Linked DNA regions of Homo sapiens: regions 1 and 2 are each linked to region 3. Evidence: fine-mapped expression QTL. Tissue or cell type: whole blood. Region 3 holds a variant in brackets; each other region holds the start of a gene. Each region is shown on its reference strand, or each on the opposite one. Region 1 holds the start of LINC00482 (long intergenic non-protein coding RNA 482). Region 2 holds the start of PELI3 (pellino E3 ubiquitin protein ligase family member 3). Region 3 has its middle 20 kb from the start of ZNF467.

Region 1 (8,174 bases), not on the chromosome of region 3:
CCTCAGGGAGCCACCCCGATGGGCTCTGGCCTCGGGAACTGCGAGGCAGTTTCTGTTGTGTGAAGCTCCCCAGTCTGTGGACCTTGTTCCTGCAGCTCGGGAAACTCACACCGCACATCCTGGCGCGCAGGCCAGGCCGCCGCCCGGGTTTGAGGCCTTGCTGCTCCCTTGCTGCCCCCAGCCACCCGCACACTCTCACGGAGCCCAGCTCACGACACCCATGTAGTGTGCGACACTTTTGGAGAACCACAGGAATGTCCTTGATTAAAGCGTGCGCAGGGAGAAACGTGGCCTTGTTCCCACAGATGCCCACCAGGGTCCCTCACCTGCTCCCCCTTGGCGCTGGCCTTGGCCCCTTCCAGCCTGCCCCACCAGGCGGCCGCTCTGGTCCAGGGGCCTGGGTTTGGTCCCTTCCTTGGGCACTTGCAGGCGCTCTTCCTGGCCTGTCTGCCCTCTGCCCTCCCCTTTTCCTGGCCTGTCTGCCCTCTGCCGTCCCCTGCGGCATCCCCCAGCCCCAAGGGCGGTGGTCCCATGGCCAGACGGGATTCCTGTTGGGCTCCCGAGCTCTGGAAATGCGGCCGCTGCTCTGCAAATGTGCCTTCTCTGGGCCCTTCCGCCCTTCGAGTCCATCTCCCTCCCTGGCCTCCACGGTAGGTCCAGGTGAGCAGGGTCCCCTGTGGCCCCCACAGTCCCCTTGTGTCACCAGGCACCATCTGTCCCAGCCTAATTGCTGGAGCTGCTGACATCTGGGCCGGCCACAGTGCCTTCGAGGGCCTGGTTGGTCTCTGAGGCACGGCATCCTGCAGCTGAGGGCCTTCCCTGACGGCTGTGCCCTCCACCAGCCAGGGCCCAGGCACAGCCCCTGAGGCAGGGTGTACATCCCTGGAGGCTGCGGTTGGGGAGGTGGTGGGATGAGCTGCCCTGTACCATGGCTGCGTGTGGGAAACAGCAGGAGGCCGGGGGAGCAGTGAACGGAGCTGGGCCCGCTTCAGGGATCTCGGCCTAGGGCAGGGGGTAGAATAAGGGAACAGAACCAAATTTGTCAGGGGGTGTGAAAGCTGCAAAGGGCTGGTCGGACAGGGAAAGGGGTTCTGGAGGGGAGGGTTTCTTTGTGTAGTGGGTGGAATGGTGGCCTCCAATATGTGATGTCCAACCAGAATCTCAGAATCTCAGAATTGGAGCAAGGGTCTTTGCAGCTGTCATGGAGAGGTTATCTGGAGATGAGGTCATCCCGGATCATCCCAGGGGGCCCTAAGCCCAACGACCCTCATCCTTATAAGGGATGGAAGAGGAGGAGAAACTCACATGAGATGAAGGCAGAGGCCAGAGTGATGGGGCCACAGGCCGAGGAGCACGGGAACCAGGGGGAGCTGGAAAGGCGGAAGGGCTCTGCCCAGAGCCTCTGGGGGCAGCAGGGCCCTGTGGACACCTTGGTTTCAGGCTCCCGGCCCTGGGAGCTGTAGGAGGACACCTGTGCTGTTGTGAGCCTGCCACCCTGGGGTCCTCCATGTGGCAGCCCAGGACCCCAGTGTTCTTTGTTCAGTGGTTCTGGGGTCTCCGAGGTGCTGGGAAGCACAGGTGTGGGGGACCTCAAGACAGGTGGGGCTTTCCCAAAGGAGCAGAGGAGGCACCTGCAGAGGGGCCCAGAGAGCACACCCGGGTTCAGCAGATGGTGTAGAGGGCGCCCGGGCAGAGGATGCACGGGCAAAGGCCCTGGGTTGTGCAGGGCGTTTATAGACGTGCATGGAGTCGGGGAGAGGAGGGCCGGCCCTGGGGGCCGCCTGGGCAGGGCTCCTGCCCGCAGACCAGACCCAGACCTGGCCAGTCCACTCTGGGAGAGTCAGGGTCGGGGGAGCAGGAGGGGGATCCGCAAGCTAGAAGGGTCTCGGGGCTGGCCAGGCTGAGGCCGCGCAGCCTGTGATGAAGGGGGCCGTGAGGGGCTCTCTTCTCCTGAGAGAATTCTAGAACCAGTGGGTGGCTCAGGCCCTGAGACTGGGCGTACTGGGGTGTGTCCATCTGGGACCCAACATGGCAGCCTCCCAGGCCTCAGGAGCTCTCTGGCCTGTGCCACGTGTCCCCAGTGCCCTGGTGGGCTCTGTCCCTACACAGCAGCTTCTTGGGTAGTAGGTGGGCTGCAAAGGGATATCTGAGTTGGGGGTCAGGGGCTGCAGCGACTTGAGCTCAGCCCAGGTGCATGGTGTGAGGAAGCTGTCCCTCTAGACGGCTCGGGGCCCTGAGCTCAGTGCTCCAGGCCTGCCCCCACGGTCCCTAGAGGGAGGCAGGTGGACAGGACATGCCTGGACAGGACAGAGCCTGGGCTGGCAAACACTTGGAGGGGGCTGGGGCTCCCGCCTGCCTCTCCCCAGCACCGTCTCAGCACAGGTGAGCAGAGAAACCAGACCCTCCCCCTCAGCCTGTTGGAGGGCAGAAGTGAACACCCCTGTCCCCCAAATCCCTGTCATGCTTTTTTGAGCCCCAGGAGGGGACACGGCATTGTCCTGGAGCCACAGCATTGGTCTGACTCTGACTCGCATTCGATGATGGTGGACCCGTGGGCAGGTCACGCTCCTCCCTGGGCCTCAGGAGCCGCCCAGTGCCAGAGCCGGGGGCACAGCATGGCAAATGTCATTCCCAGCCTGCCTGGCTGCCTGGCAGCTCTCGAGAGAAGCCCACAGCCCCGCTCCTGTCTCCCTGCTTCCTTTGAGTGAGGCCCGGCCTGGCCCTCTGCCGTGTTCAGGCCACCAGCACCGGCTGCACAGCCAGCGCCCACCAGAGTTGACTCCTCGGGCCTCTGAGCACCTTCCCACTGCCTGGAGTGGCCGGCTGACCAGCGTCCATGCACTGCCTTCCCCACCCAGAGGCATCTCCCTGTCATTGTTGAGTGCGCAGTTCCCAGCTAGCAATCACCTCCCCATCCTCACGAGCACCGGGCATGGTCCTGTGACTACAACCTGAGCAATATAAGCAGAAGGGCTGGGCCGACTTCATGGCTTGCCAAAAGACCCTCCCCCTCCCCCTCCTCCTTCCCTTTCTCTTCCCCCTTCCCCTTCCCCTTCTCCCCCTTCCCCTTCCACTCCTCTTCCCCTCCCCCTCCCCCTTCCCCTTCCCCTTCCCTTTCTCCTTCCCCTCCCCCTTCACTTTCCCTTTCTCCTTCCCCTTCCCTTCCCCCTTCCGTCCCCCTTCCCCTTCCCCTTCCTCTTCCCCTCCCCCTTCTCTGAATCAGGGTCTCACTCTGTCACCCAGGCTGAGGTACAGTGGTGAGATCATACCTGGGACCACAGGTGCACATGGCTAATTCTTGTATTTTTTGTAGCGACAGGGTTTTGCCATGTTGGCCAGGCTGGTCTCAGACTCCTGGGCTCAAGTGATCCACCAGCCTCGGCTTCCCAAAGTGTTGGGATTACAGGTGTGAGCCTCCATGCCCAGCCCCAGCTGAAAGCTTTTCAGTAGTCTTTTACCTTCCCTCCTTTCTCCTTCCTGCTGCCTGGAATGCAGATGCAATGGCTGGAGCTCCTGCGGTTGCTATGGAACCATCCTTGACTTCTCCCTTTCAGTCACACCCCTCATCCAATCTATCGGGAAATTCTGTTGAGTCCATGTTCAGATATCCACAGCTTGGACCACTTCTCCCCACTTCCTGTGTCTCCACCACGATCCGGGTTATCTCTCTCCGGGATCGTCATGTTCTCCTCACTTCCGTCCTGGCCTCCCCATGGTCTGTTCCCACCCAGCAGCCAGAGGGTGAGACCATGTCAGCCTCTGCTCAAACCCACCCTCAGCCCAGGTCCTCACAGGCACCCTGCAGGATGCGCCCTGCCTCCCCTCGGGCCCTCCCAGCACCCCCTAGCTCACTGCCTGGCAACCCCACTCCTGCTGGTGGGCCTACAAAAGCTCTGTAGCATTTGCTGAGGAACAAATGAAACCTGGACCCCAGGGATGGAGGCCGTGGTGGGGGGGCACCATGGAGAGGGGGAGGCACTGTAGAGGTGGGGACACCGTGGAGATGGGGGGGGCGCCGCCCCAGCCCGGCTGCCTGCCCACCACCCATTGAGCAAGCCTCTGGTATTTAAGCCACTGTTTGATTTAGGGCCCAATGAACGAAGCCAGCCAATAGCAATCTCTCACTGTTACCCTCTCCATTTTATAGATGGAGAAACCGAGGCTCAGAGAGGCAACGCAGTGTGCTCAAGGCCACAAGACTTCTAGGTGTGGGCCTGGGCTGCATGCAGGGTGAAGGTTATCATGACCCCCAAGCTCAGGGCACCCCAGGGATGCAGCTCTGACCCCTGCCCTGAGGATGGGACACTCCAACCCTTTCTCTTTTTTTTTTTTTTTTTTGAGACGGAGTCGCACTTTGTTACCCAGGCTGGAATGCAATGGTGAGATCTCAGCTCACTGCAACCTCCGCCACCTGGGTTCAAGTGATTCTCCTGCTTCAGCCTCCGGAGTAGCTGGGATTACCGGCATCTGCCACCACACCCAGCTAATGTTTGTATTTTTAGTAGAGATGGGGTTTCGCCATGTTGACCAGGCTGGTCTCCAACTCCTGACCTCAGGTGATCCGCCCGCCTCAGCCTCCCAAAGTGCTGGGATGACAGACGTGAGCCACCGCACCCGGCCAAACACCCCAACTCTTTCTGCTGCATTGAGTCCAGCAGGGTGCCCTGAGGGACTGGCCCCGGGGACATTTTCAGCCACTTTAGGGAAAAGAAGACGTAATGCTCACACTAACCGCCCCACACCCGACTCCAGGCTGGCCTGGCGCCATACCCTCGGGGTCTCCAAGAGAGGCAGGGCTGGTCCCCACCCACCACCTCCCCTCACCTTGGTCTTGGTGTGTGGAGCCCTTGGCCAGGTCCCAGGCAGTCGTGGGTAACACCGCAGACGTGTGTTACCCAGGGCGGGGCCCCTGAGAGCTGGGGTGGTTCAGAGCCCGTCCCCACTCCGGGAGCAACGTCAGGGCGGGGCGGGGCTGGACGGACAATGTGACCTTTGCAATGTCCCCGAACAAGAACTGCAGATGGTAATCACGGCCACCAGGAGGAAACTTCCTCTGAATCTTCCACTACCGTGGTGTAACTAGGGAGGGTGTTGGAGCATTCAGCGAGATAAAAAGCCTGCTTTTGTCTACACTTTTTCCGTTTTCTAAAAATTCCAGACACAAGGGGAGAGCTGCCCAAACACAGAGGTGGAGAGGAGCCTGTCCGGACACAGGGACACAGGCAGCTCCGGCAGTGACCACTTGGGCCTCAGAGAAACTCACAGGTGGCCACTACTCCTGTTTGGAGCTGGAGGCAGATCATCTGGGGCGCCTCGGGGTAGGGAGGAGCTGGTGGACAGCACGCCCCACTTCTTCCCCAGCCCCTCCAGGGGGAGCTGCCATTCCGCAGCTGGTCCACCCAGCCCCAGGAAGGGGGAGGCTCCCCAGGACAGTAGCCCAAAGAGCAGAGGGTCTCCCCGAGAAGGTGCACCCCAGGCAGGGCTTATCCACATACCACTAGGCTGGGGGCCCTGCTCCGGGGGGTTGGGGTGGCTGGAACCTTAGATGGTCCCATCCTGTTGGGGGGCTTCCTGGGCCGCTTTGCTGCTCCCAACTGTGGAAGGTTCTCTCTTGCCTTCCCTTTCCTGCTGTTAGAAGCACCCCAGCCCCTCCAGGCAGCCCCCAGGGCCCGAGTGATGAATCACTGACTTCTTGCCAGGCTCCGGTCGTGATGCGGGGTGGCAGAGGGATGTGGGCAACGCAGCTGGGAGTCCCGGGGCACAGCCGGGCTCTCTCCAGGCTCCCCATCCAGCAGCTGCGCACCCCCCCAAACACACGCCGGGCTCCCCGCACCCGGAAGCTGCCCACAACCGGCAGGACAGGTCGGTGGGCCCCGGGGAGGAATGCAGGAATGCTGCGTGCCCAGGCGAGGGGCCCTGCGCCCGCCCAAGGGGCTCTCCAGCTGCGCAGGGGCCGGGGCGGATGGAGCCGGGGTAATTAAAGCTGGTGACAGCTGAGGAGGGATAGAGACAGGAACACAGGTGGGGTCCCAGGCCCCTCCGCTTGCTCCCCAGGCAGAGGGCTGGAGCGGCCCCCAGGAGAGTGCCACCTTCGTGGGGCAGGAAGAGAAGGTTGCAGGGGCACTGGGTGTCAGTGGACATTGAGGTCTAGGAGAGGCCAGCTCTCAGCTGCAAAGGGCAGGCAGAGTCACCATGTGCCGGGCCTGGCCGGGCCCTCCCAGTTCCCATCCAGACACCCAGACACCCAGACACCCAGACACTGGTCTCGTCCAGGCCATCACGTGGTCAGGAATGGTGTCTGCCTTTGATAGGTGAGGACCCGGGTGCTGTAGGATCTGCTGCTCTAAATGAAGGCAGGCGGTGCTGCCCCAGCGGGAGGACAGCAGCTCCAGGCCTGACAAGGCTCTAGGCCTCAGCTTCCTTATCTCTCCCGAGCCCAGGTTGACATCCCTTTCCCACCTTCCACAGCCAGAGGACTAGACAAGTGTCTTCACCGGAGCCTCGTTTCCTCATCTGAAATATAGCGCTAACCACCCCTCCCTCCCGTGGCTGTGGCAATAAATTAAATGAAGCCCACAGAGGACCTAGCACACAGTACGTGCTTAATCAATACAGAACCCCTCCCCCAGCACTGCCCGCCCTTCCCCTGGAAGCAGCCACGCTTACCTCCACCACCTCCTCTCCATGGTCATCAAACACTCGTGACAGGCCGGCCTCCCCCTGCTGAGACCCTGAGAGGTCCAGGCCTCTGCTCCTCGTCTCTGCCACGCCTGGTGTCATGAGGGTGAAACAGGCCCTTGGGGGACGTTCGGACTGGCTTCCTGTGATGGCCGCCAGCATTAGTAGCGTTGTTACTGCTGCCTGGACACACACAGACGCCTCACAGAGCAATGCAACATGTGGGTGAAGTTTTCAGATAAAATCGGAGATTTAATAGAATTCCCGCAGGGTGCTGAGCTCCAAACCCAGGCCACACATGGCACACGCAGGGCCTGTCAGGGCTGGGGCTGATGACCAGGGTCAAGGGGATCCCAGGGCCCTCCAGCTCTCCCCCAGCTCCTGATGTGGAGGGGAGGGAACTCCCGCTCACCCCCAGAGAGAAGGGAGTCCACACACCGCATCTGAGCTGGCGGTGGGCAGGGTACCCACCTCGGTGAGCAGCCTGGGGTGGGCCTGGGGTCAGGCTGAGGTCCCGGTGACAAAGGCTGGGGAGGTGGATGCAGACAGCCTCCACTTTCACCATGGCCTCCCTCCTCTGAGGCCAGGCCTGGGATGCTTCTGCCCCACAGCTCCGGTCCACCTGCCAGGCCTGTCCGTCCTTGGATGAGGGCAGGGAGAGGTGGGGTGGCCACTGGCAAGTAGAGACTTCAAAAGTGCACGGTGGCCCTTCCACGCCCTTTGCTTCTTAGCCCCCAACCCTCTGCCAGGCTTTCTCCCTTTTTCCCACGCCCCGCACAGACAGGTATCCTGCCCTCAGCATCTCACAGGGGTGAGTGGCAGCCAGGAGCAGCAGCAGATGCCTGTGGGGAGATGAGACGCCCTCAGCTCCCAGGCCCCGCTCCTGGGGAAAAACAGGGCCCCAGGAAGGTGCCCCAACCGTTCCTGGGGGCCCCAGCCCCGAACAGGGGGTCTTGAAAGGGAACTCTTGTGTGGTGAGTGCCCCCTGAGGGCTGAGCCACAAGGTCACCTTGATTTCTCAGCGGACGGAGGCTGAGCTGGCTAGGGTTCCAGGCTGGGTGTGGGAGGGTCACCCCAACAGGCGATGCCCGAGAGGTGTCCGGGCCTGGCTTTCCACGAGGAAGAACCAGTCCCCTGTGCCATCTGCAGGGCTTGCCACACAATCTGGGGACCCGGTGCAGGAGGAGAATTCCTGGCCACTTGTTTAGGAGGCAGGAAAAGGGCCGGGCGCGGTGGCTCACACCTGTAATCCCAGTGCTTTGAGAGGCCGAGGCGGGTGTATCAGGAGTTTGAGATCAGCCTGGCCAACATGGTGAAACCCCGTCTCTACTAAAAATACAAAAATTAACCGGGTGTGGTGGTGCACTTCTGTAGTCCCAGCTACTCGGGAGGCTGAGGCAGGAGAATCGCTTGAACCTGGGAGTCGGAAGTTGCAGTAAGCCAAGATCGCACCACTGCACTCCAGCCTGGGTGACAGAGCAAGACTCTGCCTCAAA
Region 2 (8,143 bases), not on the chromosome of region 3:
AAGCCAAGAGGCCAACAGTATGCCTGTAAATTCCCTAAGACTTCAGGTCTAAGGCAATAGAACCATTCAAACAATAAGGGCTTCTAGAAACGTTAAAGGATTTGTCTATCAGCATGAGCCCAAGGTAGGGGGGCTTATCTCAAAGAGATTTGTGGGCATAGTCTAATGAAGTGAATAAGGTCCATAGAAATCTACAAAGTTTTTAAGAGAATTGTATTGGCAGAAACACTGACAACTTGGACTGTAAAGGACAGAGACAACAGAAATGGAAAAGAGGCATTCGAACCCTCAAACTTCTATAGACAGGATGCAGGCCAAGAAAATTACTCAGCTGCAAACACAGACTACCTTTTATGGAAAATGAAAGATGACTCAGGAAGTAGAACTAAGAGACCAAGAGCCATGGATTATTATTCTCAGGCCTTGCTTCAAGGGCTTTCCTCTAAAGCTAGAGACCGAGAACTGAAGCCCAGGTCGCCTCTGCTCTGGATCCCCAAATCCATGTGAGGGATCTGTCTTTTCCCAACCCCACCCTCCCCGTCTGGCATGGCCTCAAGGGCAGAACCTAGCATCTTAGCTCTTCCTTCTCCTCTCCAAATCTCCCAGCCCAGAAAGAATGTGCTGCTGTTGTTTTTTTCTCTTCTTAATTTTTTTTAGAGACAGGATTTTACTCTGTTGCCCAGGCTGGAGTGTAGTGATGTGATCATAGCTCACTGCAGTCTCGATCTCCTGGGCTCAAATGATTCTCCTGACCCAACCTCTTGCGTAGCTGGGACTACAGGCAGGCACCACCATGCCCAGCTAATTTTTTTAATTTTGTAGAGACAGGGTCTTACTATGTTGCCCAGGCTCGTCTCAAACTCCTAGCCTCAAGCGATCCTCCTGCCTTGGCCTCCCAAAGCATTGGGGTGAGCCACTGCGCCCAGCCCTGTTTTGTTTTTTCCACATGTTTTCTCAACTAGATATACAACTACTTTTCCAAACTATTCCAAGCCTCTCCCCTTCAGGCATTAGAACCCAAGAATTAAAGAAATAAAGTTTCGGCCGGGCGTGGTGGCTCACACCTGTAATCCCAGCACTTTGGGAGGCAGAGGCAGGCGGATCACAAGGTCAGGAGATCGAGACCATCCTGGCTAACACAGTGAAACCCCGTTTCTACTAAAACTACAAAAATTAGCCAGGCGTGGTGGCGGGTGCCTGTAGTCCCAGCTACTCGGGAGGCTGAGGCAGAAGAGTGGCGTGAACCTGGGAGGTGGAGCTTGCAGTGAGCCGAGATTGTGCCATTGTACTCCAGCCTGGGCGACAGAGCGAGACTCCGTCTCAAAAAAAAAAAAAAAAAAAGGGGTATCTAGAACTAGAAATACCATTTGGCCCAGCCATCCCTTTACTGGGTATATACCCAAAGGATTATAAATCATGCTGCTATAAAGACACAGGCACACGTATGTTTATTACGGCAATATTCACAATAGCAAAGACTTGGAACTAATCCAAATGTCCAACAATGATAGACTGGGTTAAGAAAATGTGGCACATATACACCATGGAATACTATGCAGCCATAAAAAATGATGAGTTCATGTCCTTTGTAGGGGACATGGATGAAGCTGGAAACCATCATTCTCAGCAAACTATCGCAAGGACAAAAAACCAAACACCACATTTTCTCACTCATAGATGGGAATTGAACAATGAGAACACATGGACACAGGAAGGGGAACATCACACACCGGGAACCGTTGTAGGGTGGGAGGAGGGGGGAGGGATAGCATTAGGAGATATACCTAATGCTAAATGATGAGTTAATGGGTGCAGCACACCAACATGGCACATGTATACATATGTAACAAACCTGCACGTTGTGCACATGTACCCTAAAACTTAAAGTATAATAATAATAAAATTTTTTAAGAAAGAAATAAAGTTTCTATTTTATTCCTTTCTTTGAACCAACAGGGACAAGATCTAGATTGAAGAGAGAAAAGGGAGGGTTGACAAAGGAATTTCAAAGCAATACTGCAAAATCCTATTCACCACAAGTATCATTATTATTCCCATTTTACACATAAGGAAACTGAAGCTTAGTGAGATTAAGAAGCTGGAGTTCTTGGAGCAGAGCGCTGGATTTAGAGCCAGAAGCCAAGGTTGGAACTTAGGCATCTGCTACTGGTGTCCTAACTCTCCCTTCCTCTCCCTTACTTGGGCAATCCTGGTGTCGGGCCCACCTCAGCCTCCCTGAGGCCTGATGGTCTGGCTGTGCCACCATGCAGCTCCAATCCCAGTACTGCCCCAGGAGAAATCCCTGCCTCCTCCTCCAGTGAGTCTTGGTGATCCCTCTCAGACCTTCCTCCATGCAGTCCAGTGTCAGGTGGAAGCACTGGGGCTCCTGTGAAGCATCAGCTCCACATCTGCCTGGCTTGTGACCTGGGGCAAGTTTCTTCTTCTGCCTGAGCCTCAGCTTCCTGGTGTGTAAATTGGGGATTATAACAGGGATTCAGTATATATTCACTGAGGACCTGCTCTGGCAGGCAATGCATTAAAAGCTGGGGGTACACAAGGGAGTGAGGCTGTCCCAGGGTCCCCGTGCACACCCAGCACAATGGACGCCTCTGGTGGCATCAGTGAGGGCAGCTATCCTGTGTCACAGGGTTTGTGTGACCTGCAGCCAGCAGCCCAGCGGTCTGGTGGTGTCCTGCTTGGTGGAAGTCTCGCAGGGAGATTCTCTGTGACTAACGAGTGTCTTTTCCCCTAAAGGATGTGCCGTCGGCTGCTTTCTTGTTTCATCTAGCCGCTGGGCCCCAGAACAGTTGGCAAAGCAGTTGGTATCTTTGGCTATTTTTAGGTGGAGGAGTTAGCGGGGTGGATATAGTAGGGCCCCAGGGGAGTCTGGTAGATGGGGAACTTCAGGTGCAACAAGTTTGTGGGGGTGGGAGTGGCAGCGGCTCCCTCTCAGGAATGTTTAGGCAAACTAAACATGCATCCTTCATAATGGAAGTCAAAAGCCACCTCCTCTGTGCAGTCTTCCTTGATTTTCTCATTAAACACCCCCACCGCCCCCCACAAGACCAAAGACTTGATCTGGAACTATAATCCAGCCTTTATAGTTCCAGACCAAGAGTACTGAGCAATAGGGACCTTACCTGATGCAGACAAGGTTTCTCTTCTGCACCTCTGAGGCTCCATCCCTAGTCAGAACGACAAGGTACGAAGTTAGGAGTTGAGACTGAAGCCACTCATACAGCTGAGATTCTCTCTTGGCCCGTTTCTAGCAAACTACAACAAGCAAGTCACTTTTGTAAATCTATTTCCTCATCTGTAAAATGGGCAACTATCGTGCCTGCCTCCCAGGATTAAAGTAAAGGGTTTAATTTGCTCAAAGCACAGCGCACAGCGCCTAACGTAGACTGATAGATCTCTCGCAAGCCCCAGGCCCAGAAGGGGCGGTGCTCCCCCAAAACTCTCTTTCCTTTGCAGCACAGCGGGGGGTGTGTGCATCCTGGCGGAGGGGAGGGGACTGAGGGGAGGGGAATGGGGGGTGCCCGAGCTGGGCTGGAAGACAGGTCTGCGACTCTGGTCAACTGCAGCTGCTTTCCCCGGCCTCCACCGCTGCCGCACACCCCCTTTGCCTTTAGCATTTTCCTCCTCTCCTCTAATTGCGTGGCGTCCCCAGATGGTAGGCGGGGTGTCGGAGCTGGGGGTGCGTAGTCCCGGGCCTAAGGCTAGGGAAGGGGCCTCCAGCGCCGTGTGAGGGCCCTGACCGACAGTGGGGAGGGGCGCCCATGTCTCTGGGAGAACCCCGGAGTCCCCGGAAATGGAGGCGGAGTTTGGGGAGTCTGAAATGGGGGAGGGGTCGTGTAGACTACGGGGGAGTCCTGAGCCGGCTAGGAGGGGCAAGGGAGTCCCTCAGACGGAGTGGAGAGCGGGGCTTCCCTGGTCAGAGGGCGGTACCAGGGGAAGGGCGTGGTCTCCTGCGAAGGGGCGGAGCTCCGCCTACGAAGGCTGAGCATCGCCGCAAGAGGCGGAGTCTGGAGCGAGGCGGAGCTCTCCTAGGGGCGGGGAAAATGGGGCGGGGCCTCCGGACAGGGGGCGGAGCGTGGCTGTTCGCGCTCATCCCCCTCCCCCGGCCCTGGGTGTCCCCGTGACGAGGCAGCGCGGAGCCGCCGCGGGCCGGGCCCATCCCGCCGCAGCGGCCCGGGGCCGAGCAGGGGCTAGGCGGGGAGGGAGCGGCGCCCAGCGGGGCCCGGAGCGTGGCCAGGTGAGGCCGCCGGGGCGGAGGGGGCGGGGGCTGCGCCAGGCGGGCCCCGGCGGGCGCGGGGGGCGTGTTTGCGTGTCTGGGGGTGGTGGAGGGAGTGGGTCCGAGGGCGGGCGCCGGTGGCTGCTGCGCGCCCGCGCGTCCCTGCGGTCGCGGGTGCGGGTGGTCTCTGCGCCGTCCGGGCCCGGGGCGTGCGGGGCCGTGCACGCGCGCGTGTTGTGCGGAGGGGCCGCCGGGTGTGGACCTGCGTAGGTGCTGGGCCGCGGTTCCCGTTCTGCCCGCCCGGGGCGCAGGGCGCGGGCCTGCCCCGGCGCGGTCCCTCTGGCGCGGGGATGTTTTCCAAACGGGCTGCCTGCGGGAGACGGCTGTGCTGCAGCCCGAGCTCGAGGGGGGAGCGCCGCCTCCGCAGGCCTCCTGAGACCCGGGCGGCTGGGGACGCAGACAGACACCTGAGGGAGGGAAGAGCGCGCACCCAGGAGGAGTCTATTGGCCTACCCGCAGGGGGAGGCCGAGATGGGGAGACTGAGGCAGATGGTGAGGCGGAGGCGGGCAGACAGGCAGAGATGGGGAATGGGGGGAGAGAGACGGCAAAAAGGACAGCGGCTGGGAGGACAGAGAGTCATTGAGAAAGCAGATGGACAGACAGAGGCCTAGACCTCAAAGGGGCAAGAAAGATTCAGATGGACAGGTAGATTCAAAGAACCTGTCAGAGAGGCTAAATCAGAGGTCCAGAGGCTAAGAGCTATAAGCAGGAACTGAGTCTGAGATGAGGGGTAACGGCCCCCAACTCATTGGGTGCCCCGCTTTGAAGCACATCCCAGACTGGGATCTTGGCCAAAAAGCAGCCTCTGGCCACCCCAAGTTGGTCCATCTCTTTGGCACCACTGAATATCCTGACTCTCTTCACTGTGCCACCCCTCCCTGGTATCCCAGCAACCTCGGGCAGTTTAGAGGAGGCAGAGGGGAAGTGGTTGCCATAGCAGTAGAGGCGGTGAAAGGTCACCCTTGCCTTAGCCTAGGCGGCCCTGCAGCAGGCTGCAGCTGGAATTGAGCCGGGCTGGGGTGGGAACCTACAAAGCTCTTTTCTCTCCCACTCTGCCCAGAATGGTGCTGGAAGGAAACCCTGAAGTGGGGTCCCCCCGAACCTCAGACCTCCAGCACCGGGGGAACAAGGGCTCTTGCGTTCTCTCCTCTCCCGGTGAAGATGCGCAGCCAGGCGAGGAGCCCATCAAGTATGGTGAACTCATCGTCCTGGGGTGAGCATCCCTGGCCTAGAAGGGGTGAAGCACCAGACACCCACCCAACGCAGCCAGAACAAGGGCCCGACCCCTCCTCCCCCCACATAGGGCCTTCAGCTGTTTGTCCCTCCTCACCTTCCTAGCTGAAAGACAAAATTGACCAAACCCACCTCAATTCATAATTATTATTTTATCTTCCCATTTTTCACAAAGTACTGTGACAACTCTAACCACCCAACTTCCTGATCAGATGAGAAAAATGTTAACACCAGCTGCCTTTCCTAAAGCACCTAGTGTGTGTGGTGTGGGGTGAAGAACTCTGGTTCTCCAGCAAAACTGCTTGGTTCAAATCCTGCCTCTGCAAGTTGCTGAACTTCCCTGTGCCTCTGTTTCCCCTGTTTTGCAAATGGGGATGATAATAATCCCTTCCTCAGAGGGTTGTTGGAAGAAATGAATGAGGTGATTTCTGTAAAGTACATAGAACAGCGCCTAGCACATATCGAGTGTTCTGGGAGGCAGGCCTGTGCCAAGCCCTTTCATGGACATTATTTCATTTCAATCTTCACAAAGATGCTGTGAGGAAGGAGGTGAGGAAACCGAGGCTCAGAGAGGGGAAGTGACTGGCCCAAGGGCACACAGCTGGTAAGTGGCAGGGCTGGGATTTGGACCCAGGTCTTTCTTACTCTAGGTCTAGTGCGCTTTCACTAAGCCACAGCTGACCCTCACACTACAGATGAGAAAGCCAAGGCCAGGAGAGAGGAAGCAACGTGATCTGGCGGCCTGGCCAACCTCATCCCTTCCTGGTCTTTGCCTGACCAGGATCCCTGCACCATCCACTCAGATCTTTCCCCAGGGACAGACCCTCTTCCTCCTCCCCCATCTGGATCTCCTTTTGGCCTCTCTTTGCCATCAGTCCTAAAGAAACTATTTGATAAGCTATATTATCATTAAGATTTTTTTTTAATGGCTGTTTGTTGACACATGCTTTAAAAAAAAAAAAAGCAGTAATAGTGAACACTTATCAAGGGCTTCCTATAAATATGCCAAACTCTGTGCCAAGCGCTTTTAAATGCTTTGTCTCATTTAGTTCTCAAAATGAACCTGCGAGGTAGGTCCTAAAAAATTAGCTCCATTTTACAGAGGTCATGTGATAAGTGGAAGAGCCAGATTTAAGCCAGGCCCATCTGTGTCCCAAGCCTGTGTCCTGAACTGTCCCACCTCAAGACCTGCCCCCCATGTGTGAGAAGAGCTCACAAGGGCAAAAGTGATGTCTCCCTTGGGAGAAGCTGCCTTGGAAAAGCAGCTGCTTCATATCCCAAAGGCAGGACTGGCTTTCCAGCCCAAGGCAAGGCCACTAATGTGGGAGGCTGCAGACCCATGGGTATGGACCCTCCTGTCAGCCCCCTTGGGGAGCAGAGTCCACACTGGCTGCATATCAGAGCTGGCTGGAGGGCACTGAAAATACACATTGACAGGCCCTCTCCAAGCCTACAGAATCACAGTCGCAGTGGGTGGGACCAGGGAATCTGTTTTTTTTTTTTGTTTTTTTTTTTTTGAGACAGAGTCTTGCTCTGTCACCCAGGCTGGAGTACAGTGGCACGATATCAGTTCACTGCAACCTCCACCTCCTGGGTTCAAGTGATTTTCCTGCCTCAGCCTCCTGAGTAGCTGGGATTACAGGCACCCACCAGCATGCCTGGCTAGTTTTTGTATTTTCAGTAGAGACAGGGTTTTATTATGTTGGCCAGGCTGGTCTTGAACTCCTGACCTCAAGTGATCTGCCTGCCTCGGTCTCCCAAAGTGCTGGGATTACAGGTGTGAGCCACTGCGCCCGGCCTCATCTGGATTTTAACAAACTCACTAGAAGATTCTGATTCAAGTGGCCTTGTCTGTATTTGGCAGCTCTTTGTCCTGTCACTTCCTGTTCCCAGACCTTCCTGGCACCCCACTGGTTGTTGAATAATGTCCTCAGCCTGGAGTTCAGAGCCCTCCCACCAGTGTCATCTCCCCCACATACTTCACCACCAAAGCCACCATTCCCTGATCTCATCAGACCCTGCCAGCCTTGGGCCCTTTGCTTAGGGTGAGCCTCCATCTAGAGGGGCTTCTGGAGTCAGAGAGACTGGGCTCAAATCTGGACATTTTCACCTACTAGCCAGAGGCAAGTCACATTACCTCCCTGAGCCTTGATTTCTCTCATTTGTAAGATGGGCAGAAAGCCACTTGCCTGGCAGGCCACTGCACAGATTCCATTAGGTGATTGATAACATGAAGGCCAGGAACACAGAGGCAGCAGCCCATGGCAGCGATGAGAGCTATGCCTCACCTCCTCTGTGCCTCTCACAGCCATGCCCTCCAGACAAGAGCTGGAAAGGCAGGTGGAAATTTGACATGTATGGACATATGGAGGTACTGGCATTGTGTGTCATTTTTTCCTTCCATTTTGGTTTTGAGTAGTGGTGTGATAAGTGACAGCTTACTACAGGTGAACCCTTTCTAGTTCTTCAAAACCCAGTAGAGGTGTTCCCTCTCCCAGAAACCTGATCCTAGGGCGAGAATTCCCTTTTCTTCCTCTAGGCTTATGGCATCCTTGGCTTGTGCCTGGGTGTGGCAGGTGGCACCTAGGTTCCTGGAGAAGCTGAGGAACCCCTCC
Region 3 (8,174 bases):
ACAACGATCATAGCTGAACAACCCTGGGATCAACTTGACCTTAGCTTAGCTAGATTCTTTCTTCCAGGAGTCTGGAATTGAGAAAGTTAGTCAATTGTTTGAATGACTACACCAGTAACTGGTCAATGTGGAAGCTATGGAGAGGCCACCTTTGCTGTGCTCTATGAGTGAAGAAGCAGGAAAGCTGGTCCACAGAGAAGGAAGGAAGGAATGCACAGAGAAGCAGGGGAGAAAATAGCGCATCTGGTGAGTAACCCTGGAAGAAAGCAGTTGTGTGGGGTACACAGCAGAGCAGAAGCTGAAGCGTGGTCATTTAGAGGGTGCATTGCCCTCATTAGGGAGTCCCTAATGAGGAGCCCCATACAGGGAGCAAGTGACCTAGAAGAACTCAGCAAAGGACCTCATGAGAGACAAAGTCACTATTCCAGCAGCATCCTGCCACACAGAGGACACCTGGGTTGGGTGACAACAACACTGGTCAGATGGGAGGCATTCTCCTTCCCCTCCTTCCTGTCATCCCCCTGGGGGAGCCAACTGGGGCCCAGGGTGTGAGGAAGAGCAGTGAAAGAACAAGATGGAGATCACTGAGACCTGGGCCCCTTTTCCCATCACAGCAGTCCCCAGTGAGATTGGAGAGATGCTTCAGAGTGGATGAGATATAGAAGTTGTGGGTTAGATGGTGCTAGACTTTTTAGTAACTGAAAATGAGACTATTCTAACTTCCAAGATATATTAGGATCCACCAAACATATGGTCCAGGAGTGGGTGTGACCAGAACTTCTCCTGCCCCTGTACACTCACTACCGTGCCATGGGTCTTGGCTGCTGTTCCCACCAAAGACGGTTTTCCCACCTCTTAAACCTTGGGGGGCTTTGTAACTTGATTTGATCAAGAGAATATGGCTGAAGTGACACTGTGTGAGTGCTGCAGCCATGGCTTCAGGAAGCCCTTACAGATTCTGCACCAGCCCCCTTGGAATACAGAGCTGGCATGTCGGAGGCCCGGGTCAGCCTCCTGGAGGAGGAGAGAGAGGCCTAGCCAATAGCTAGCACCAACCACTGGATATGAGAATAGGACCATTTTGGACCACCCAGATCCAGTTGGGCCACAAGAGCCACAAGGTAACTGTACCTGCAAGGAGGAACCCAGGTGAGACCAGCCAAAAACCACTCTGCTGAACCCAGTCCAAACTGCTAACCCACAGAACTGTAAGCAAATAAAAGGTTGTTTTAAGTGGCTCAATTTCGGAGTGATTTGTTACACACAATAAAAAAGTGATATAGCGAAGAAGGCAGATACAACAGAATGGGTTTGAATGCGACGATGAAAGAAGAAAATAAAGTTGTTTCTTGCCACTTCCCAAGTCCAGCTCATTTAATTTACAAGCAATATTTGCAAAAGGCAGATCCGGGCAGCGATGTGAGATTTTTCCCCTGGGTATTCTCAAGTGCCTAAATACCTACTTGGTTTAAAATAGATAATTCTCAGCTGGGCACAGTGGCTCAGGCCTGTAATCTGAGCACTTTGGGAGGCCAAGGCAGACAGATCACTTGAGGTCAAGAGGTTGAGACCAGCCTGACCAACATGGTAAAATCCTGTCTCTACTAAAAATACAGAAAAAAAAAATTAGCCAAGCGTGGTGGCAGGTGCCTGTAATCCCAGCTACCCAGGAGGCTGAGGCAGGAGAATCACTTGAATCCAAGAGGCAGAGGCTGCAGTGAGCCAAGATCGTGCCACTGTGCTCCAGCTTGGGCGACAGAGTGAGACTCTGTCTCAAAAAAAAAAAAAACAAAACAACATAGATAATTCTTATCTCTGGACTCTCCCCTTGTCCCACTCTGCAATGTTTCCCTTCGGACATCTCCTCACAGAGCTGTGGAAAGCTCAGAAGGCCCCTCTCTGAAGCCTGACTGCTGGTCACCAGCATTGGCCCTCAGAAGGCTGCTGCCAATCAGGGCTGAGGAGAAGCCGTGACCTTCACTGGGAATAGAAGTGGGGGCGAGGGGTGAGCAAGCTCTGCTTTCTTTCCTGAAACAGCAAAATGAGACAAGTGTGTGCACGCTGTGCTGCTGCAGCTGCGAAATGAAAAGCTTCTCATTAGCATCCTTTGCACAGGGGTAGGGGTGGGGGATAACTCAGGGACAGCTCTCAGAGTGCAGAGCTGGGGCTTCTGTTCCCAACCCAGGCCCCCGGCAGGCCCCCTAGGTGTGTCATCTGCCTCCAGCCCAGCTAGGCAAGTGTGCTTCCATCTGGGTTGGGGAGAGGGATGGGTGGAAGTCTCCTGTGGGGTAATTGTGAGTCCTGATCTGGTCCCAGAATGTGAGCCCACCTTAGTTGTGGGACCCTGGGACCTCCACCCTCCCCAGCCCGCTGAGCAGGGAGGGGCATGCAGAGCTGGGTGGAGGGGAAGCAGGTTCCTCTGGCCACACAGGCTCTTCCTGTGCCAGGGGCAGCCCAGGCACAAGATGACAAGGAGAACCGGAAACTAGCCAGCAGGGCCTGCCCTGCAAAATCATGGATTTCCTCTTTCCCTCCCTCCCACCCTTCAGGCCCCAGCAGAACCTCTCTCCTCCAGGCCTCCGTTCTGTCATGCAGGATGAGAGCAGAGGTTCTTAAACCAGCTCTGCGGACCATGTGGGCCCACAGAGGGGCTTAAAGAGGGTGTCCACATACCCTCTAAAATTACGTGCAAATCATTGTTTCTATGCACATTACTCTGAAGGGAGCTTTAAACAACTAAATGCTTGGTGGTTTGCTAAAGGTTAGGAACCGACAGCCTAGAAAATTCTCAGGCCTCTCCAACACTGACATTCCTGCTTTCCCCTTTCTGTCTGCTTTCCTGAGTGTGGTTCTCAGCTCTCTTCTTAGTTCAGGTAGCTCTCTTCTCATCTAATACATATACTTTGCAGTAACGGCCAACGAAGGTGGTATATTACAGTGAGGCTTTAAATGGGACATGCAGAGTATGTGAAACATACCAGATATCTAACTCACATAATTGCATTTGAGCAGTAAGTTTAGCTTTAACCATCTCAGCAGCCACATGAAAAAATAGATCGCTGAATTTATTAACTTTGGGATTTGTGTTTGCTGTCACCCTGTCTTAGTTCACAGCTATAACTCTGCAGGGGTGGATTTTAGGCACTCAGATTATCCGGTAGGGGAGGGATTTTGAGATGGGTAGGCCTTGTAAAGGCTCCTCTTCCACCTGTACAATTCAACATACGTGTTGTGAGTGTTCAAATGTGCCAGGTCCTGGAAATACCAAGACAAAAAAACACGACTTCCGCCCTCGAGATGTTCCCAGTGGGCCTGGAGAGATGAGGCTCCTACAAGGGTGTAACCTTTCTAAACCCCGGTTTCCTTACCTGAGAAGTGAGGACAGCAACCCCGTACCAAAGGGGGCTTAGGGGAATTAAGTAGGAGCCTCAGTCACAGGAGGCACTCACACATTTTAGGCACACGCGGACACACCCAACAACTGCAGGCGACATCTGGTAAGGTGGGAAGCAGAGGAACCATGACAGCTTAAAGGAGGAGATTGTTGTGTGCTGGGATCATTGGGGAAGGACACCCCCAGGAGGTGGCCCCCATCTGTGCTCGAAAAATAGGTAGGATTTAAAAGGGAAGTCAGGGCAGTAGGCACTTTGTGATGGGGAAGCCCAGGGAGGCCGGGGCAGGAGGCAGGAAGGACCACACGGCCCGGAGACAGGAACAAGACCGCTTGGTGTAAGGGAGGGTGTGTACCCAGGAGGTTTGGAAAATAAGTTTCAAAAGTTTGTTGGGGCCAACTGTAGAGAGCCTTGAGTTAGAACAGACATGTATTGCACACTGGCTAGGTGGGCACTCTGCTCTGTGCCAGGGAAGCTTGCCACCCCCAGAGGGACACACAGAATAATGTGGCACAATGTGTCAACCGCTAAGGCCTCTGGATATTCAGATGAGCAGAAGTTTCTAAGCTGGGGCGTAATAAGTTATAAGGAAGATCAGCCTGACAGTTGGAGGATAGATGGGGAAGCAGGAGTTGGGGAGAAGTCAGAGGGGGACCTGATAGGAGAAGGTTGCCCACTGGCCTGGGCTTGGGGGGACAGTACTGGGAGGGTCAGGGGCAGCAGGGGCAGCAGGGCAGGCATCTGCAAAGGATGAGCGTGCTATGACGCGAGCTCCATCATTCTGGAGAAAGAGGATCCTGAGGCCTTAGGAGTTCTCCTGGAAGCCCCACAGTGAAATCTCAAGAGAGAAAATCCCAGCGAGGACAGGGACACTGGGCCCACGGGAATCCTGTCTTGCTGGGCCGGAGGGGAGCCCTGGGTCTGGCTCCTGTAGAGCCTGAAATAGAATCCGATTTGCGATGCCCCTAATGATGTTATGTAATGACATTGCATAAGCCCGTTACGTAAATCAAAGTCCTGCTATTGACCA[A/G]GAATGTCCCCTGCCCCAAGGCTGACCTAATCCCACGCCTGAAGGCTCAGTCCTTTGTGGCAGTTGGATAAATCTGTTTCCTAAAGCCTCTGTGAAACCCTCCCGACCTTAAAGTCTCTGTCTTTAGGGTTCCTGGGGCCTCCTTCTCCGTTGCTGCTTCTCCACTGTGGGAGGCCTCAGTGTGACACTCACTCATCCTTCCCCAGGTGAGGGTTCCCAGGGAAGGACAGGATTCCAGTCCTTCCACCAGCGTGGAATTGTGGCCGTGCGCCCTCTTCTGGGGGTCTTGCATACTCCCTCTGACTGTGAAATACAAGACTTGTCTCTGGTTAAAAGACATTTCAAGGATCAGTAAGTGAGTGAAGAAGTTTTCTTCCCTGTGGGGCATGGGTGGCCTCCCCAGGACCCTGGAGTTAACAACTACGAGCAGGTTCTTGAGTCCCAGGAGCAGAAAGAATCTTTCACTACTGGAAACCAGCATGTCCCGTGAACGCACTCACCAACCTGTCTGCCTTCAGTCGGCCCATCTGTCTCCCTGAACATACTAGCAGAAGCCCTCCCACCCTCAACCCACCTCGCCAACCCCCACCCCGGCTCCCCTTCAAGCCCTCTCCCCAGCATAGGCAACATCTTCCTCGGGAGGCTGTCTCCTTCCTTCATCTATGTCTCTCTACAAGTAAATCCTGGTGTGCACACCACCACCCCCGACACATAAACACAGTTTACAGAAACACCAAACAAAACAGTCATGTTTGATGGAAAAAGGCTGAGTTCCCAGTTGCTCTTAGTGTCTCCTAAAAGTCAACTGTTTACTGTCCTATCAAAGCTATTTTACTGTTATAGGACTAGGAAAAATTTAAATTTAAAAATCACACGAAGAATAAAGTAACACAAAGCAAAACTGTTTATGTTTTATCTTTTTTTTTTTTTTTTTCAGACAAGTTCTTGCTCTGTCACCCGGGCTGGAGTGCAGTGATACAATCTTGGTTTACTGTAACCTCAAACTCCTGGGCTCAAGGCATCCTCCTACCTCAGCCTCTTGAGTCACTAGGACTACAGGCCTGCTACCATGCCTGGGTAATTAAATTTTTTTTTTTTTTTAGAAATGGAGTCTCCCTATGTTGCCCAGGCTGGTCTTGAACTCTTGGCCTCAAGTGATTCTCCCACCTCGGCCTCCCAAAGTGCTGGGATTACAGGTGTCAGCCACAGTGCCCAGCCTCTTTTGGCTTTTTTGAATGATATGACACATCTCCAAAACATAGCACAGGGTGGATCCAAGAGCTCCTGGGGTAAGAGCTGCCTGGACCCACAGGTCCACTCTCATGGGCTCTGATTAGAGCTGCACTGCCCCATTCCCTCCCAATACCAGGAGCCCTCATTTCAGCCTCAGCTCCCCCAACTTTGACACAGTATTTTACTCAAGGTCTCTGTTATGAATTGAATTGCGCCCCCCAAGAAGTCCAAAAAGTTGTGTTGAAGTCCTAGCCCTGGCCCCAACCTATGAATATAGCCTCTTGAAAATAGGATCTTTGCGGATAAAATCAGGATGAGGTCATTAGGGTGGGCCGTTCTCCAATATGACTGTTGTCCTTATAGGAAGAGGAGGGACACAGACATGCCCAGAGTGGAGGAGACCCAGGAAGAAGGTGATGGGAGGATGGAGGTAGAGATTGAAGTGCTGTGTCTATAAGTCAAGAAATGGCCAGGAGAAAGGCCTGGAACAGAGTCTTCCCTTGAGCCTTCAGAGGGAGTGTAACACCTGATTTCACACTCATAGCCTCCAGACCGTGAAGGAATAGATTTCTGCTGTTTTGAAGCTATGCAGTGTGTAGCACTTTGTAAAGGAGGCCTCAGGAAGCGAACACAGCAGCTTCGGTGAACGCAGTGCCACATGGCACAGCTCCCCCCTTGCCTGTGTGCAGGGGGCAGCAATGTCAGCAGGACAATTTTCAGGCAATTCACAGAGACTGTGGCTTGGAGTTGGGCCCAGGCTGGCCAGTGTCTTGGGAGTCTGTGAGGCCTCGACCCTCTTCCCAGGTTGCTATCTGCCTGCCCCATAAACACATCCTGAGACTTTGCTACCTTCCTTTCCCCCTTCCTTCCTGGTGTTCTCTCAGAGCTGTACCTGTCTGCACTGCCTGGTCTCCTTGGTACATCACCTGCTTGGACATCAGCCACCCTTTCTCAGTGCCTCGATTCAGGATGCCATAATATATGTTTTCTATGAAAATGAAGCTTCATTCTGCCTGCCGATTCCTACCTATTTTAAATCACAGCTGACATCCACGCCTCAACAAAGATTCCCATAGCTGTAGCTCCATGATTCATGATCGCGTCTAGAAAGGGAACATTTTGCAACAGATAGCCAGGCCCAACTTCCATGGCTTCATGCTTCTTCCCAGGTCTCTGCCACCCAGCACTGTCCTCTCCCAGGAGACAGATGCATGCTAATGCCACGTGTGTGTGTAACAGGTTTCCCGGCTGGCTGGAAGCCTGGTCCCCAGTTGCTTACAGTCTTGGCAAGTTAATTCACCTCCTCAGAGATGCCCTCCTGATCTCCAGGTGTGAGTCCCTGCTCCTTGCTCCTTGTTCCATGATCCTTTGCACATACTTCTCTTACCAACCCACTAGGTCCAACCGCGAGTCTGTGAGTGCCCTGAAGACCTTGAATGTGTGTCCTGAAGACCCCTCTCTGCAAGGGGACAGTGGAGCTTGGTGTTTAAAAGTACAGGTCCTAGGAAAATGCAAACCAAAATCACTCTGAGATGTCGCCTCAAAGCCATGAGGATGGCCAGTATCAAAAACCAGAAAATAACAATTGTTGGCAAGGATGTGGCGTCATTGGAAGCCTCATGCATGGCTGGTGAGAATGTGAAATGGTGCAGATGCTGTGGAAGACAGTATGTCAGCTCCTCAAGAAATTAAAAATAGAATGACCATATGATCCAGCAATTCCATATCTGGGTATATACCCAAAAGAGCTGAAAACAGGCACTCAAACAGACATATGTACACTCCTGTTCACAGCAGCATGATTCACAATACCATAAGGTGGAGGCAACCAAGTGTTCATTGGTGGATGATTGGATAAACAATGTAGTGTAGACATGCAATGGAATATTCAGCCTTAAGAAGGAAGGAAATTCTAAGACCTGCTACAGCATGGATGAACCTTGAGAACATCATGCTAAGTGAAATAAGCCAGTCACAAAAGACAAACACTATGTTATTCCACTTATAGGAGGTCCCTAGAGTAGTCAGATTCATAGAGATAGAAAGTAGAATGATGGTTGCCAGGGATTTGGAGAGGGGAGAATAGGGTTTAATAGGCACAGAGTTTCAGCTTTGCAAGGTGTATTAGTCAGGATTCTCTAGAGAAAGACAACCTTGGGGTGTGTGTATATACATGTAGAAAGAGATTTGTTTTAAGGAATGGGCTCATGTGATTACAGGGGCTGGCAAGTCCAAAATCTATAGGGTGGCTTTGGCTGGCTGGAGACCTAGGGAAGAGCCGATGCTTCTGCTGGCTGAATTCCCTCTTCCTTGGGGGAGGTCAGTCTTCTGTTCTGTTCAACTGATTGGGTAAGGCCTACCCACATTATGGAGGATAATCTGTTTACTCCAAGTCCACCAATTTAAATGTTAATATCATCCATAAACCCTCATATAAACATATAAAGATAATGTTTGGTCACATATCTGGGCACCATGGTCTAGCCAAGTTGACACAGAAAATTAACCATGACACAAGT

The links.
Region 1: LINC00482 starts here. The variant in region 3 is fine-mapped to the expression of LINC00482 in whole blood (TOPMed, PIP above 0.99).
Region 2: it holds the start of PELI3, and the variant in region 3 is fine-mapped to the expression of PELI3 in whole blood (TOPMed, PIP above 0.99).

Annotation. Positions count from the first base shown.
Region 1 is chr17:81,304,361-81,312,534 of GRCh38, forward strand. LINC00482 (long intergenic non-protein coding RNA 482) reads right to left here and starts at 4,888. Exons shown (of 4, transcript NR_038080.1): 1 at 4,825-4,888; 2 at 3,270-3,484; 3 at 1,306-1,457; 4 at 1-1,002. TMEM105 (TMEM105 long non-coding RNA) reads right to left here. Exons shown (of 3, transcript NR_165247.1): 3 at 6,905-8,174. RefSeq lists an enhancer at 5,252-5,311.
Region 2 is chr11:66,462,773-66,470,915 of GRCh38, forward strand. PELI3 (pellino E3 ubiquitin protein ligase family member 3) reads left to right here and starts at 4,133. Exons shown (of 8, transcript NM_145065.3): 1 at 4,133-4,255; 2 at 5,356-5,508; 3 at 6,061-6,132. The coding sequence starts at 5,357. RefSeq lists enhancers at 2,098-2,599, 2,600-3,099 and silencers at 4,051-4,260, 4,271-4,620.
Region 3 is chr7:149,749,152-149,757,325 of GRCh38, forward strand. No RefSeq gene overlaps it. Among named protein-coding and RNA genes, the nearest start is that of ZNF467, 20 kb to the right of the region's middle. The variant A/G (reference allele first, on the strand shown) is at 4,423.